Homo sapiens: one gene and its partner. The protein of the gene in region 2 interacts with the protein of the main gene of each other region in a pairwise test. Each region holds a gene or a part of one and is shown on either strand. Other genes may lie near its edges.

Region 1 (7,039 bases), on a different chromosome or scaffold from region 2:
TCACGCCTGTAATCTCAGCACTTTGGGAGGCCAAGGAGGGCGGATCACAAGGTCAGGAGATCGAGACCATCCTGGCTAACACGGTGAAACCCCACCTCTACTAAAAATACAAAAAACTAACCAGGCGTGGCAGTGTGCGCCTGTAATCCCAGCTGCTGGGGAGGCTGAGGCAGGAGAATGGCGTGAACCTGGGAGGTGGAGCTTGCAGTGAGCTGAGATCGCGCCACTGCACTCCAGCCTGGGTGACAGAGCAAGACTCTGTCTCAAAAAGAAAAAAAATCAGTAGCATATCTATATACCAATAATGTTCAGGCTGAGGACCAAATCAATAACACAATCCCATTTACAACAGACACACACACACACACACACACACACACACACACACACACACAATACCTAGAAATACCTCTACCCAAGGATGTGAAAGATCTCTAAGAGAATTACAAAACACTGCTAAAAGAAATCATAGATAACATGAACAAATGGAAAAACATTCCATGCTCATGGATTGGAAGAATTAATATGGCTAAAATGGGCATACTGCTGAAATCAATCTACAGATTTAATACTACTCCTATCAAATTACCAATGTCATTTTCCACAGAATTGGAAAAAATTATTGGAAGTAACTGAATCACGTGGACTGGTTTTTCCAGTTCTGTTCTTGTGATAGTGAATAAGACTCACAAGAGCTGATGGTTTTATAAAGAGCAGTCCCCTGCACACGCTCTCTTGCCTGTCGCCATGTAAGATGTGCCTTTGCTCATCTTTCACCTCAGGCCATGATTGTGAGGCCTCCCCAGCCATGTGGAACTGTGAGTCCATTAAACCTCTTTTTCTTTATAAATTACCCAGTCTCAAGTATTTCTTCATAGCAGTATGAAAATGGAATAATACAACTCCCCATTCAACAGCTGATGCTTCGGATATTTGGCTAGCCATATGCAGAACAACGAAAACTAGACCCCTACTTTTCACCATATACACAAATTAACTCAAGGTAGATTAAAAGTTTAAAGGTAAGACCATGAACTATAAGAATTCTAGAAGAAAACCTAGAAAACACCCCTCTGGACATCAGCCATGGCAAAGAATTTATGATTAAGTCCTCAAAAGCAATGCAATAAAAACAAAAATTGTCAAGTGGCATCTAATTGAACTAAAGACCTTCTGCACAGCAGAAGAAACTCTCCACAGGCCGGGTGTGGGGGCTCACACTTATAATACCAGCACTTTGAGAGGACGAGGCAGGCAGATCACCTGAGGTTAGGAGTTCGAGACCAGCCTGACCAACAAGACAAAACCCCATCTCTACTAAAAATACAAAAATTAGCTGGGCATGGTGGCACGTGCCTGCAATCCCAGCAACTAGGGGGGCTGAGGAGGGAGAATCACTTGAACCCGGGAGGCGGAGGTTGCAGTGAGCTGAGATCATGCCACTGAATTCCAGCCTAGGTGACAGAGCGAGAGTACATCTCAAAAAAAAAAAAAAGTATCAACAGAGTAACAGACAACCTACAGAATGGGAGAAAATATTTACAAACTATGCATCTGACAAAGGTCTAATATTCAGGAGCCATATGCAACTTAAATGAACACACAGAAAACAACCCCATTAAAAATGGGCAAAAGACATGAACACACATGTCTCAAAAGAAGACATACAAGTGGCCAACAAACATATGAAAAAATGCTCATCATCATGAATCATCAGAGAAATGCAAATCAAAACTACAGTGGGATACCATCTCATACAGTGAGAATGGCGATTATTAAAAAGCCAGTAACAGTAAATGCTGGCGAGACTATGAAGAAAAAGGATCATTTATATACTTTTGGTGGGAATGTAAATTAGTTCAGCCAGTATGGAAAGGAGTTTGGAGATTTCTCAAAGAATTTTAAAACAACTACTATTTAACACAGCAAACCCACTACTGGGTATACATAGAAAAGAAAACAAATCTGCTGGGCGCGGTGGCTCACACCTGTAATCCCAGCACTTTGGGAGGCCGAGGTGGATGGATCACGAGGTCAGGAATTCAAGACCAGCCTGCCCAAGACGGTGAAACCCCGTCTCTACTAAAAATACAAAAAATTAGCCGGGTATGGTGGCACATGCCTGTAATCCCAGCTACTCTGGAGGCTGAGGCAGAGAACTGCTTAAACCTGGAGGGGCGGAGGTTGCAGTGAGCCGAGATTGTGCCACTGCACTCCAGCCTGGGTGACAGAGCGAGACTCCCTCTCAAAAAAAAAAAGGGAAAACAAATCATTCTACCAAAAGACACCACTATCCATAATAGCAGTGACATGGAATCAACCTAGGTTCCCATCAACAGTGGATTGGATGAAGACAATGTGGCATATATACACCATAGGTTACCACACAGCCATAAAAAAGAATGAAATCATATTGTTTGCAGCCACATGGATGAAGCTGGAGGCCATCATCCTAAGTGAATTAATGTAGGAACGCAAAACCAAATACTGCGTGTTCTCATTTATAAGTAGTAGCTAAACATCAGGTACTTACGACCATAAAGATGGCAACAATAGACACTGGGGACTACCAGGGCGGGGAGGGAGCGAGAGGAGGAAGGGGTGAAAAACTAACTGTTGGATACTGTGCCCACAACCTGGATAAAATCATTCATACCTCAAATTTCAGCATCAAACAAACTTACATATGTACCCCCTGAATCAAAATAAATTTGAAAAAGGAAAAATAAAAAATGAAAAAAAGTTTCCTTGGCAGTGTATTATATGTAAAGTAATCCCTGTAATGTAAACAAAATGTACATACGCTTGTATGAATATACATGGCATATGCATAAAGATTTCTACAAAGAATCACAAGAAATTATCTGTTGTATTCACCTGAATGAAGAAGGGCTGGGGGCTGGAGGAAGTGTTAGGGGACTACCACTATGACTCAGCACCTTTGTTTTTTTTTTGTTTTTGTTTTTGTTTTGAGATGGAGTCTGACTCTGTAGCCCAGGCTGGAGTGCAGTGGCGTGATCTCGGCTCACTGCAGGCTCCGCCTCACGGGTTCACGCCATTCTCCTGCCTCAGCCTCCCGAGTAGCTGGGACTACAGGCACCCGCTACCACGCCCGGCTAATTTTTTGTATTTTTAGTAGAGGTGGGGTTTCACCATGTTGGCCAGGATGGTCTCCATCTCTTGACCTTGTGATCCACCCTCCTCGGCCTCCCAAAGTGCTGGGATTACAGGCATGAGCCACGGCGCCCGGCCGACTGAGCACCTTTCTATAGTGTGGCAGATGTGTGGCTCTGCATTTACCACTTTCAAAAAATGTGCAGCGCGGCCAGGTGCAGTGGCTTATGCCTGTAATCCCACCACTTTGGGAGGCCAAGGTGAGAGGATGACTTGAGGCCAGGAGTTTGAGACCAGCCTGGGCAACATAGCAAGATCAGATCTCTACAAATTACAAAACAAAGGTGCAATGCGATTCAGCAGCGTGGAGTAATTGTTGATATTTTTTGTTTATTTCCTTACCTTTTTATACTTCCCTTCATTAAAAAAAATGGGGTATAGTTATAGGAAAGGAAGAAAATGGGTGGAAAGTGAACCTTGTCTAGGTAAGTATTTGACAAGTGATCAAAGAGGAGCCAAAAGCAGAGAAAAATAGGAGAATCAGTTCCTAAACAGGCGTGGAGGAAGGAGACAGTGACTCACAACAATTCAGGGAATTCCTCACTTCACACAGCATCACAAAAGAAATGGCACCTACGTTCCACTGGTGTATGCTACAAACCAAATCATTCTTTAAAAGTCCACAAAAAATTAGGTAGGATCATCTTATTTTATCCTGAAGGAAAGAACTTAAAAAAAAACAAATGTGTGTCCAGATTTCACACCTACTCAATGTCATATCAAAACTAGTGAATCGATGTGAATAACTGGATGTGTGTGTTTCTGTAATACAAAAGCACTTCTACACACTGACTCAGAAATCCTACTTCTTCCCAGAAGCCTCCTTACATACTTGATCAGAAATCTGGACAAAGATTTACTGTGAAATATGTTCAATGTAGTAAGAATTTTGAAGAACATTTAAAACTTCCGCTGTTTCAAGCAAGGGCTCCCTGACTTCTGTTAGGAGCACACGATGGAGACTGTGCAGCCTTATTCAGTCCTCAGTGAACCCTGTGACACCCACTCTATGCCTGTGGAGATCCAGGCTCTGGGGACACAGCAAGGACAGGACAGGGAGTAAGAAGCAGATGTCCTGCAGACTGGCACGGTCACCACCTCAGTGCAGCTGCTCCGTCCCCTGCAGTCCCCTGTCTCCCAAAGGCTCCATGTCCCCTTGGGCCAGGAAAGAGGAGGCACTGCCATGTCCCACTGTCTACAAAGTCCTGTGCAGGCTGCACGCCAGGCAGGGCACAGTCCCTCCTCAACTCACCAGCAGACGCTGTGGCTCCTCTGGCAACTCTACAGTCACACCTGTTAGCTCTGCCAGCTCCTGACCTTGGATTTCCTGCTCAGAGACCTGGGTGGGCTGCAAGTATCTGTTACTCAGGGTCTCGTTGCGGGCATTGTCCTCCGCCCCAGGAACTCGTGAAGGACATGAACGCCGCCGGAAAAGGACCTTGGGAAGACAAAGAGCCCACTCAAGTCCACACCCCGGGCTCAGCTTCAGGGTCCCCAGTACACAGCTGGACCTGCCATCCCCAACCCCTTCCAATGAGGTCACCCCAGGCAGCTGAGGCTCAGCACATCCAGGACCCCATGCTGAGGTGGGTCAGGTGGTCACCCCATCCCCATGGGGCCAGCTGTGGAGTGATGGTGTCACCGAGGCTGCAGGAAGGACAGGGCTGCAGCACGGCCTGCTGGTCTGTGTGCTGCTCAAAATGGCCGTGTGTCCCCCACAGTCAGCCCAGATCCCCCAGGCCATGTCAGAGAGTCAGGGCAGCCATGAGGACAAGGGATTGTGCCCACCCAGGCTCGGCAGTGGATGGGAAGCAGTTCCTGAACCCACGAAGCCCCCAGTTTCTGGAGAAACCAACTCACTCTGTGCACACGTTCGGGACCTCCTCCACCACCTGGAAAAGAAGCAGTCTCCTGAGCAGGCGGGGAGGGGCCCATGCAGCACCTCCCTCCCAGAGGACAGTGGGGCGCAGGGCTGGCTGGGGGCTGGGACACTGGACAAGGAGCCCTGGGGCTGGGGACAGAATGGGGCCTTGCAATTAGGGGACACCCTGAGGAAGGGGGATGAGAAGGGGAACTAGAGTAAAAACCAACACGTGGAAAATCTCTGTGTTCTGCTCTGACCAAGGCTGAATAAATCCCACGACCACTTCTCATCCTGACCCTTGTCACCCAGTTGAGGAGCTGACTGCCCCCTGCCTGGCTGGGCCTGAAGATAGGAGGAACTGGCCCTGCCCTCCTGGAGTTGGCTCCGGGAGATGAGGGGTCCCCCAGCCCTGAGAGAGGGACTGATGAGACCAGGGTCCTTGGGGATACACAGGACGTGGGGATGGGGCGATCACAAGAAGGAAGACCAAGCCAGGCTGGAGACGCTTGGACCAGGGGCAGGGATGGGGATTACTGTCTGTGGGAACGGAGTGGGAGAGGGCAGGGCAGACAGTGCCCAGCGCTCCCACCCTCAGCCAGCACCTACCTGAGCAGATGCCTTTGAGGTAAGAAATGAATTTCTTCCGACATGAAAAGCCAACCACAACCACAGCTAAAATGATGACTAAAACCACTATGATGATAAGGTAGTGATAGGGAGAGGCAAGCATCCCCAGGATGGTGGTCACTGTCTCCTCCGCTGCTGGGGTTTTCCCAGTGGAACTGGCAGCTGATTCATTTTTGCACTTGATGTCACTCCGGGGCGTACAATTACTGACCTTGACCATCCCTCTGGGACACCTGGGTACACACAGAGAGGGAGACAGGGACTCTTGATGGAAAGCTGGCCAGGTGGGATGAAAGAGGAGCCACCCTCCCTGCCCAAAGTCCCTGAGAAGGCGTCAGGAGGACAGGCTCCTCGTGTCAGCAGTGGGTCCCCCTGTGCTCCCTTCTTGAGGCTGGGGAAGGGTCTGAGCATGCACACTTCAGCCCCTCGGCCTCCCTGCTCTGGGGTCAGAGCTGTAGATCCAGGAGCCTTCTGTGCTGGGCACACACTGAGCTTCCCTGGGCTGCAGGGGAGGCCTGCGTTAGGAGGAGCCGCACTCCAGGGGAAGATCACAAGCCCCTGTGGCCACAAGCTGAGCCCCTTCCTCCAGTTAACACACAGTACAAGTGAGTCCTCGCCCCACCCTGTCTGCCGCTGGTTCCTCCCAACCACAGCAAACACTGGAGGGCCAGAGAAGAGCAAGTTACTCTTTGCCCCTAAAACCCAAATAGGATAAAGAAGGACTTAGTGAGAAATCGGGGGCCAGGGGTGAGGCCGGCTGGGTGGGCTCAGGTCCTCATGGGAACTTAAGGGAGCTCCACCCATGGCCTTATTATGACTTTTGTGGGCTACGGACACTTTTGTCTTTATGGGTCCCTGCCCACATAAAAAATATTAAAAATTACATTTTTTAAACCAACTTAGAGTAAGGAAAAATACAAGCCAGGCTGGATTCAAGTGTTTTCTTCTGATTTCAAAAGGAAATTACATTTCCTAGGTTGCCTGAAAAGGTTCAAGGGACCTAGAAAGTCACCTCCTGTGCCCAGTGAACAATTCAGCCTGGACAAAGGGACTCCTGCTGGGGAGGGTATGGGAAGGGGCTGCTGCAGGGGGTAGGGGTGGGGACAGGCAGATGGACCAGGAGGGGCCAACGCAGGCTCAGGAAACCCCACAGGCTCAGGGAGGCCTCGGGCCTGGAGGATCCATGGGGTCAGCGGAGAGATAGAGGTACCAGGTGAATCAGGTCTTTTCAGGTTCCTGAAAGCTGTTGGGAGCCCCTGGCTGCTGTCTTACCCTGTTCTACACGTCCGGCACATCTCAGGGGAGTTTTTATCCTGGAAGCTTCCTTTTTCACACTGACACACGGTGTCTCTGGTCGTGGTACAGGAACTTTTA
Region 2 (7,039 bases):
TCTCAACATTTTGGGAGGCAAAGCCAGGAGGATTGCTTGAGCTCAGGAGTAAGAGACCAGCCTAAGCAACATAGTGATACCCTGTCCCTACCAAAAAAAAAACAAAAATCAAAAACAAAAAAAAACACATATGTTTTTTTGTGGTGTGTGCCTGTAGTCCCTGCTACTTAGGAGGCTCAGGTGGGAGGACTGCTTGAGCCCAGGAGGCAGAGGTTGCAGTGAGCATGATCATACCACTGCACTCCAGCTTGGGTGACAGAGTGAGACCCTGACTCAAAAAAAAAAACAAATCACTGTCATGGCAAGTATATGATCTAAGAATTGGTGCTTAGACCTCTATACTGCAATAACGAACAAATCAACTTCTACTGTGTTTACCTCAAAACAAGCAAACAAAAGCCATGAACCCAAATCATATTGGGAGATTTTTATTAACTTAAATTGACATTCTTAATTTTGTCTGTAAGTCCTTGGTATATATGCCTTTATTTGAAGCAAACCTACAGGTGTTTCTTAATATGACAGAATCATGAAGACTTGCAGTTAATCAGTGTTTCCTAATGATTAAAACAATGTTCAAATAATTACAAAGTTACTTCATCAAAATACTTAGAAGAATATTCTGAGGAGTGTTTGAAAGCTCTGTTTATAAATAGTGATTGATACATTTATCATGTATTTGGTGCTGAAGATAAACACTTTTTACATAAAACATTGTTTTAATATACTGCTCTACTAATGAGGCTAGTTATTAGATATACTGTATTTTAACACTAAAGAATAAAGCTTTATCTTCGTATTTATCTTATTTATAGGACTCTTATCAATGAAGAACTTTGTATCCAACAATAATAAACTGGCAAATTGCAAGTTACGTTTTGTAGGAGAAGCAAAAAAGACTGGCTGCGACAAAAGAAAGAAGATAACTGCATTATACATGCTTCGTACAAACAGTCCATTCTGAATGGTACAATTAAATGCAGTCCAAATCCTTTTAAATGTTTGTGTGCCTAGATGGCAATTACAATCTCCACACACTAAAAAGAAAAAGAACAATAACACAGAACACAGTATTCTTAATGATTATAGCACATTTAACACCTTCAGCCATCCACTGGGTTTTCAGATCATATTGGCAACTGAAATTTCACATCCACATGTGCTTGCTTCGCTAAGGTCACTATTTCAGAGAGCTTTACAACCTAAAAGAAAAGAACGAAGAATTTTCACAAAAAGGTAAATTCAGAACTACAGGTCAGTGCAAAATTAATGTACACTCAATTTTTTCCATTTAAAACATCTGGACTATTCTGACATTGCTATAAATCACATTACGTTCTTATAAGCAAATGACATTCTCAAAGGATAATCAAGTCTGACACTCCTCATAGTCCAAACTTCAATTAAATACTTTCTGATTAAGATGTTATACCACCTGCTAGGATTACACATATGTATTACATAAGATTATATATGTGTGTATAAAATGTGTGTGTATGTATGTGTGTGTGTGTGTGTGTGTGTATATATATATATATTATTCTAAATTTTATCTTAAAGACAGAAACAGTGAGTGTCTTTGTTGGATACTCCACAACTCAAAGCACATCTAAGTAAAAATTTGTTTTGAAATAAGTATACAATCTTAACTTAAAATGTTGGGATAGAAATTTGGGTCTACTAGTTAGTATTTTACTTTTTGTCAGTAAGTTAACAATTGCTAACCTGAGTTCCAATTCTCTCTACAATCTGTCTAAAAATATCCACCAGTTACCATACAAAACATCATACAAATTTAGACATGTCTAAGACCAAAAAAACAAACTCAGCTTCTCTCTTCCTCAGTAAATTAGTTAAGAAAAGGCTTTGAAGTTAGATATCTTTGGCTGCAAATCCCCCCTCTGATGCTTATGACATACAACCTTGAATAAGTTAACTTATCTAGCCTGTTTCTTCATCTATAAAAATGGAAATTTTATCACCAAATTCATATTAAATGAGATAATCCTTGAAGAAAACAGCTTAGCATTGCATGCACAGTAAACACTCAATAAACAGTAGTAACTGCTAATATCATCATCATCTCATTCAATATTATTATTGTTATGACTTCTATAATCTCCCAGTCAATAAAAACACTGTAGTCATAATTTAAATCAACTGTTCACTTTTACCTCTCATGATCTATTTGATCAAGGTCCTACTGGTTCTTCTCCTTCTTTTCATGTCCTCCAAGCTTTTCTTAATTTAAGTTTTCATTCCAAAAAAGTGCACTTTCAGAGACAAGTTATAACCTATTTATTACCTTCACCTTTTCTCATATCTAAGTATTGCACTAGATGGACTCCTACTATCTCTCCCCTTTTCCCTTCAATATATCCCACATCTCAAAGTCAAAATAGGCTTTCTGAAATACTTTCTCCTACTATTCCCTTGCTCAAATTCTTTATTTTTAATTCAGGTTTAAGTTTAAATTCTTCTGTCTCCAAGCTAGAGTTAAATTTTGTTTACTAGTAAGTACTTTCCCAAAGAAGGACATAAGACTTTTATTATTTTTGTGAAATGACATCACATTAACTCGGTAAATTCAAGAGTCTGGCCAAGCCTGGGGGCTCATGCTTGTAATCCCAGCACTTTGGAAGGCCGAGGTGGGAGGATCATATGAGGTCTGGAGTTCGAGACCAGCCTGGTCAACATGGCAAAACCCTATCTCTACTAAAAATACAAGGCTGGGCGCAGTGGCTCACACCTGAATCCCAGCACTTTGGGAGGCCGAGGCAGGTGGATCACAAAGTCAGGGGTTCAAGACCAGCCTGACCAACATGGTGAAACCGCATCTCTACTAAAAATACATAATTAGCCAGGCATGGTGGTACATGCCTGTAATCCCAGCTGCTTGGGAGGCTGAGGCAGGAGGATTGCTTGAACCTGGGAGATGGAGGTTGCAGTGAGCCGAGATCACACCACTGCACTCCAGCCTGGGCAACAAGACCAAAACTCTGTCTTAAAAAAAAAAAAAAAAAAAAAAAATTAGCTGGGCGTGGTGGCACACACCTGTAGTCTCAGCTACTCAGAAGGCTGAGACACAAGAATTGCTTAAACCCAGGAGGCAAAGGTTACAGTGAGCTGAGATCACGCCACTGTACTCCAGCCTAGGTGACAGAGCAAGACTCAGTCTCAAAAAAAAAAAAAAAAAAAAAATCAAGAATCTACTATTGATTAAGCTATAGAGCCCAAAGAGTGTTCGAGTGTTCAATGAAATGTCTATAAACATAATGGAAGGGAAGACAAAAAATTCTCATCTCTCTGTATCTACTATGAAGTGTTCTCTGATACACATTATTGTTAAGTAAAAGAAACAAAGTATAGATTACCATTAATCTAAAGTGGGAAAAGGGAGACACACACACACACACACACACACACACACACACACACACACAAAGTCCCCCCCTTATCCAATTTCACTTTCTACAGTTTCAGTTACCTGCAGTCAACTGTGGTCCAAAAATTTTAAATGAGAAATTCCAGAAATAAAAAAGTCATTAAGTTTTAAACTGTGTGTTGTTCTGAGAAGTGTGATGAAATCTTGCACCATCCTGCTCCAAGTGGAATGTGAACCATCTCTTTGCCCAGCGTATCCACGCTGTATAAACTACTCTTCCATTAGTCATCAACATTATCTACTCTTGACATCCAACAATCAACATCATGGCTCAATGATCCAGGATGAACCAAAGCAGATGATTCTCCTTCTGTTACATCATTAGGTCAGTAGTAGCCTAACACTATGTCACAATGCCTTCATCATTCACCTCAGTTCATCTCACCAAGTAAGCATTTTATCATCTCATTATCACCACAAAGGTGAGTATAGAACAATAAGATATTTTGAGAGACCACATTCACATTTATCACGGTATATTGTTATAATTGTTCTACTTTATTATTAGTTGTTGTTAATCTGTTACTATGTCTAATACATAAACTTTATCAAAGGAATATATGTACAGGAAGAAGCACAGTATATACAGGTTTGGAACTATCTGTGATTCAGGCACCCACTAGGGGTCTTGCAACACATTCCCTGCAGATAAGGGGGGACTACTGCACACATACATATAGTTATATACATACAATTAGCTTATGTTTTTAAGAAGTGGAAAGATAAACCAAAACTTTCTTAAAAAACAAACAAAAAAAAAAGGTAAAAAGGTTGCCTGTTGGGGAAGAAGTAAAGAGGGAAATATATAAAAGCTAGATTCCCTGATAATACCTTGTTCTATACTTTCCACTTTGGAATCATGTAAATACAAAATAAAAAACAAAAGGTTGTGTTTTTTTTTTTTTAAAAAAAGCAATCCCTTTAAAAACAATGAAACTATACAAAGCTGAGACAAAACACACAGAGAATTATTTCACATGAATTTTAAAATCCACTAAGTTGTGGGACATACCCTAAAGGACAGAAAGAAATGCAGATATAATTGCTTTCAGTAATCAGACTGTTGGTATTCTTATTATAAAACTGTCATATCTGTACTAAGGGACAAAGCAAATGAATAATTATGATAGTATGGCATGAACGAAGGTACAAACAGATGTCAGATAAGAAAAAAAAATCTATACTCCTGGACTTGCATTGAAAATATCAGTATGAACTCAAGTATTACCTCTTTAAAAAATACATGTTTTCTCAGACTTGCCACTTAAAAAGCTCAGAAACAATAATCAACCCAGTATCTATGAATACTCATAAGGCCAAATTGTGCTCTCTAAATACCATTTGGCCCATTCAAGTTCTGACTCAAGAAACGTAAAGATGAGCCTGAAACATTTTATCATACCAGATAGAGGGCTTCTCAGAAGGATGCAACAGTTAACCTGAAGAGGTTCCCAAAGACCAAAGGTTGGACAATTTCAATCACAACTTACATGAACTGAACTACATCAATGTTTTAAGTCATAAGTTCAAAACAGTATGCCAGTGGAACACACATGTGTATGCATGTGTATGCACACACGCACAATACACACACACACACACACACACACACCTGAAAACAAAAAGTAAACAAAATACAAAAAAAACAAAAAACAAAAAAAACCCTAGGTCACCTTTATTGGACATAATAGAACAAACATTATTTTGAAAATTGGTCAATAAAGGCAAATAATCAGGTAATTATCCTACTTTTCCTATGCAAAATGTACTCCATGGTAACAAATGGTTGACACGTGGAAGTATTACTTTTTAGAAGCATTACATATAATAAGTGAAGAATGACAGAATTACAATAGCAACGCTTTGCAACACAAACAAAATACTGGATCTAAGCTATGATGTCAATGGCTAGTAATACCACAAAAAGATTAACATTGTATACGTTTTGATGAAATTAAACACCTACTATGAAATATTCTTGTTCCCTGCTCCCCAAAATCAAATATGAATATGGTCAAGCCTACAGACTGAACTCCCAGTTTACAGGAAATACACAAGGCAGAGAACACAGAGAGGGCAGAGAACACAGTAAATGAATGACAGCCTAAAGATGCAACCATTAAAATCCAGACTATGAGAAACTTAACAAGACCATCAACCTGGATTTTTCAACAAATAAACCACAGAAAATACTTTTCTTTTTAAAAGGGGAAACCAACAGATTAAGAAACTTACTGACATATTAACCAACTACAATGCAGAGACTTATTCTGACCCTTACAAAGAACTTAAACAAAAGATATAAGAGACTCAGAAATTTCAACAGACTGTATTTTTATAAAACATAACCATAATACCATTACCCCACCTAAAACAAGTAACAGTAATTTTTTTATACCATTATCAATACCTTTATCTTTTACAGATGCATGATGAAATGTATGAAATGATATAATGTCTGGGATTTGCTTGAAAATAATCACAGTTGTGGGAGGAAGTAAGAATACAGACAAAACAACAAACAAGATTGGGCAGGAGCTGACCGTTGTTTAAGATGATCACAGATATAAGACGTTCTGACAAAGATTCTCTCCTTGACCAAACTCTCTTTTGTTTTTTCAATATATATTTATCGAATATATAGATAGATACACACACATACATACATATGCGTGCATGTGTGTGTGCGTGCATGTGTGTGTGCGCACATGTGTGAAGATAGGGTCTCCCTATGTTGCCCAGGCTAGTCTCAAACTCCTGGACTCAAGCAATCCTCCTGCCTCAGCCTCCCAAAGGCTACTCTGAACTCTCTTCTCAACTTGGCCCTAACTTTTGGACTTCTGTATTTGTCCCTGCATAGTCCAATTTTACCAAGAATCTTGCTTAAGTCAGTTTAGCCAGGATCCTCCCTTACCCATAATGTATCCTTTTAGTAATTTTTCATCCACTGCCCCGACCCTCTTCCTTGGTTATAAATTCCCACTTTTCCTTGCTGTATTTGGAGTTGGGCCCAATCTTTCTCCCCTACTGCAAAACTCCACTGCAGTAGTCTCTATGCTTATTGCAACAGTCCCTCTGAATAAAGTCTGCCTTAACATCTTTCAGCAAGAGTCATGAATAATCGTTTTCTTTAACCATTCATTACACTCATAATATTTAGCTGAAACACAAATTATTAGCTGTATTAATAATTAGGTTCATTTTAGAATCTGTGTTTATAAATCCTCCTTAGATGAACATGGCCAATTTACCATTCTAGCAGCTTCATCCAAGTCATCACAAGCAAGTATTTTAAGTCCACTGTCCGCTATCAGTGCCTTAGCATCATCGACTCGTGTACCTGTAAATGATTTATGCAAATATAAATGTTTTAAATACACACACAAAAGCATTTTAAAATGTTTGCCAAAACATGGTATAAGAATAAAACCTCAACAGAGGAGACTTCCATTATTTAGTATAAACACTTCTAAACCAAAGAAAACACTGTAAAAGCCCAGGTTATCTTATAAAATATTTTGCCTTACAATAATTCTGACTTGCTTAGTAATTCAGGCAAGTCAGAATTCAAGACAAATCACAACAAATAAAAAG

Evidence for each region. Proteins that work in one complex are often made in the same cells at the same time.
Region 1: the proteins of SUCLA2 (region 2) and TNFRSF10D interact in binary tests that used the Homo sapiens proteins (3 or more experiments, as listed by UniProt).

What each region holds. Positions count from the first base shown.
Region 1 is NC_000008.11:23,140,024-23,147,062, forward strand, and holds part of TNFRSF10D (tumor necrosis factor receptor superfamily member 10D precursor), read right to left. Parts: coding exon 6,938-7,039; intron 5,899-6,937; coding exon 5,645-5,898; intron 5,067-5,644; coding exon 5,035-5,066; intron 4,613-5,034; coding exon 4,427-4,612; intron 1-4,426. UniProt on the Homo sapiens protein: Receptor for the cytotoxic ligand TRAIL. Contains a truncated death domain and hence is not capable of inducing apoptosis but protects against TRAIL-mediated apoptosis. Reports are contradictory with regards to its ability to induce the NF-kappa-B pathway.
Region 2 is NC_000013.11:47,942,244-47,949,282, forward strand, and holds the end of SUCLA2 (succinate--CoA ligase [ADP-forming] subunit beta, mitochondrial precursor), read right to left. Parts: intron 6,786-7,039; coding exon 6,697-6,785; intron 1,203-6,696; coding exon 1,128-1,202; 3' UTR 413-1,127; downstream 1-412. UniProt on the Homo sapiens protein: ATP-specific succinyl-CoA synthetase functions in the citric acid cycle (TCA), coupling the hydrolysis of succinyl-CoA to the synthesis of ATP and thus represents the only step of substrate-level phosphorylation in the TCA.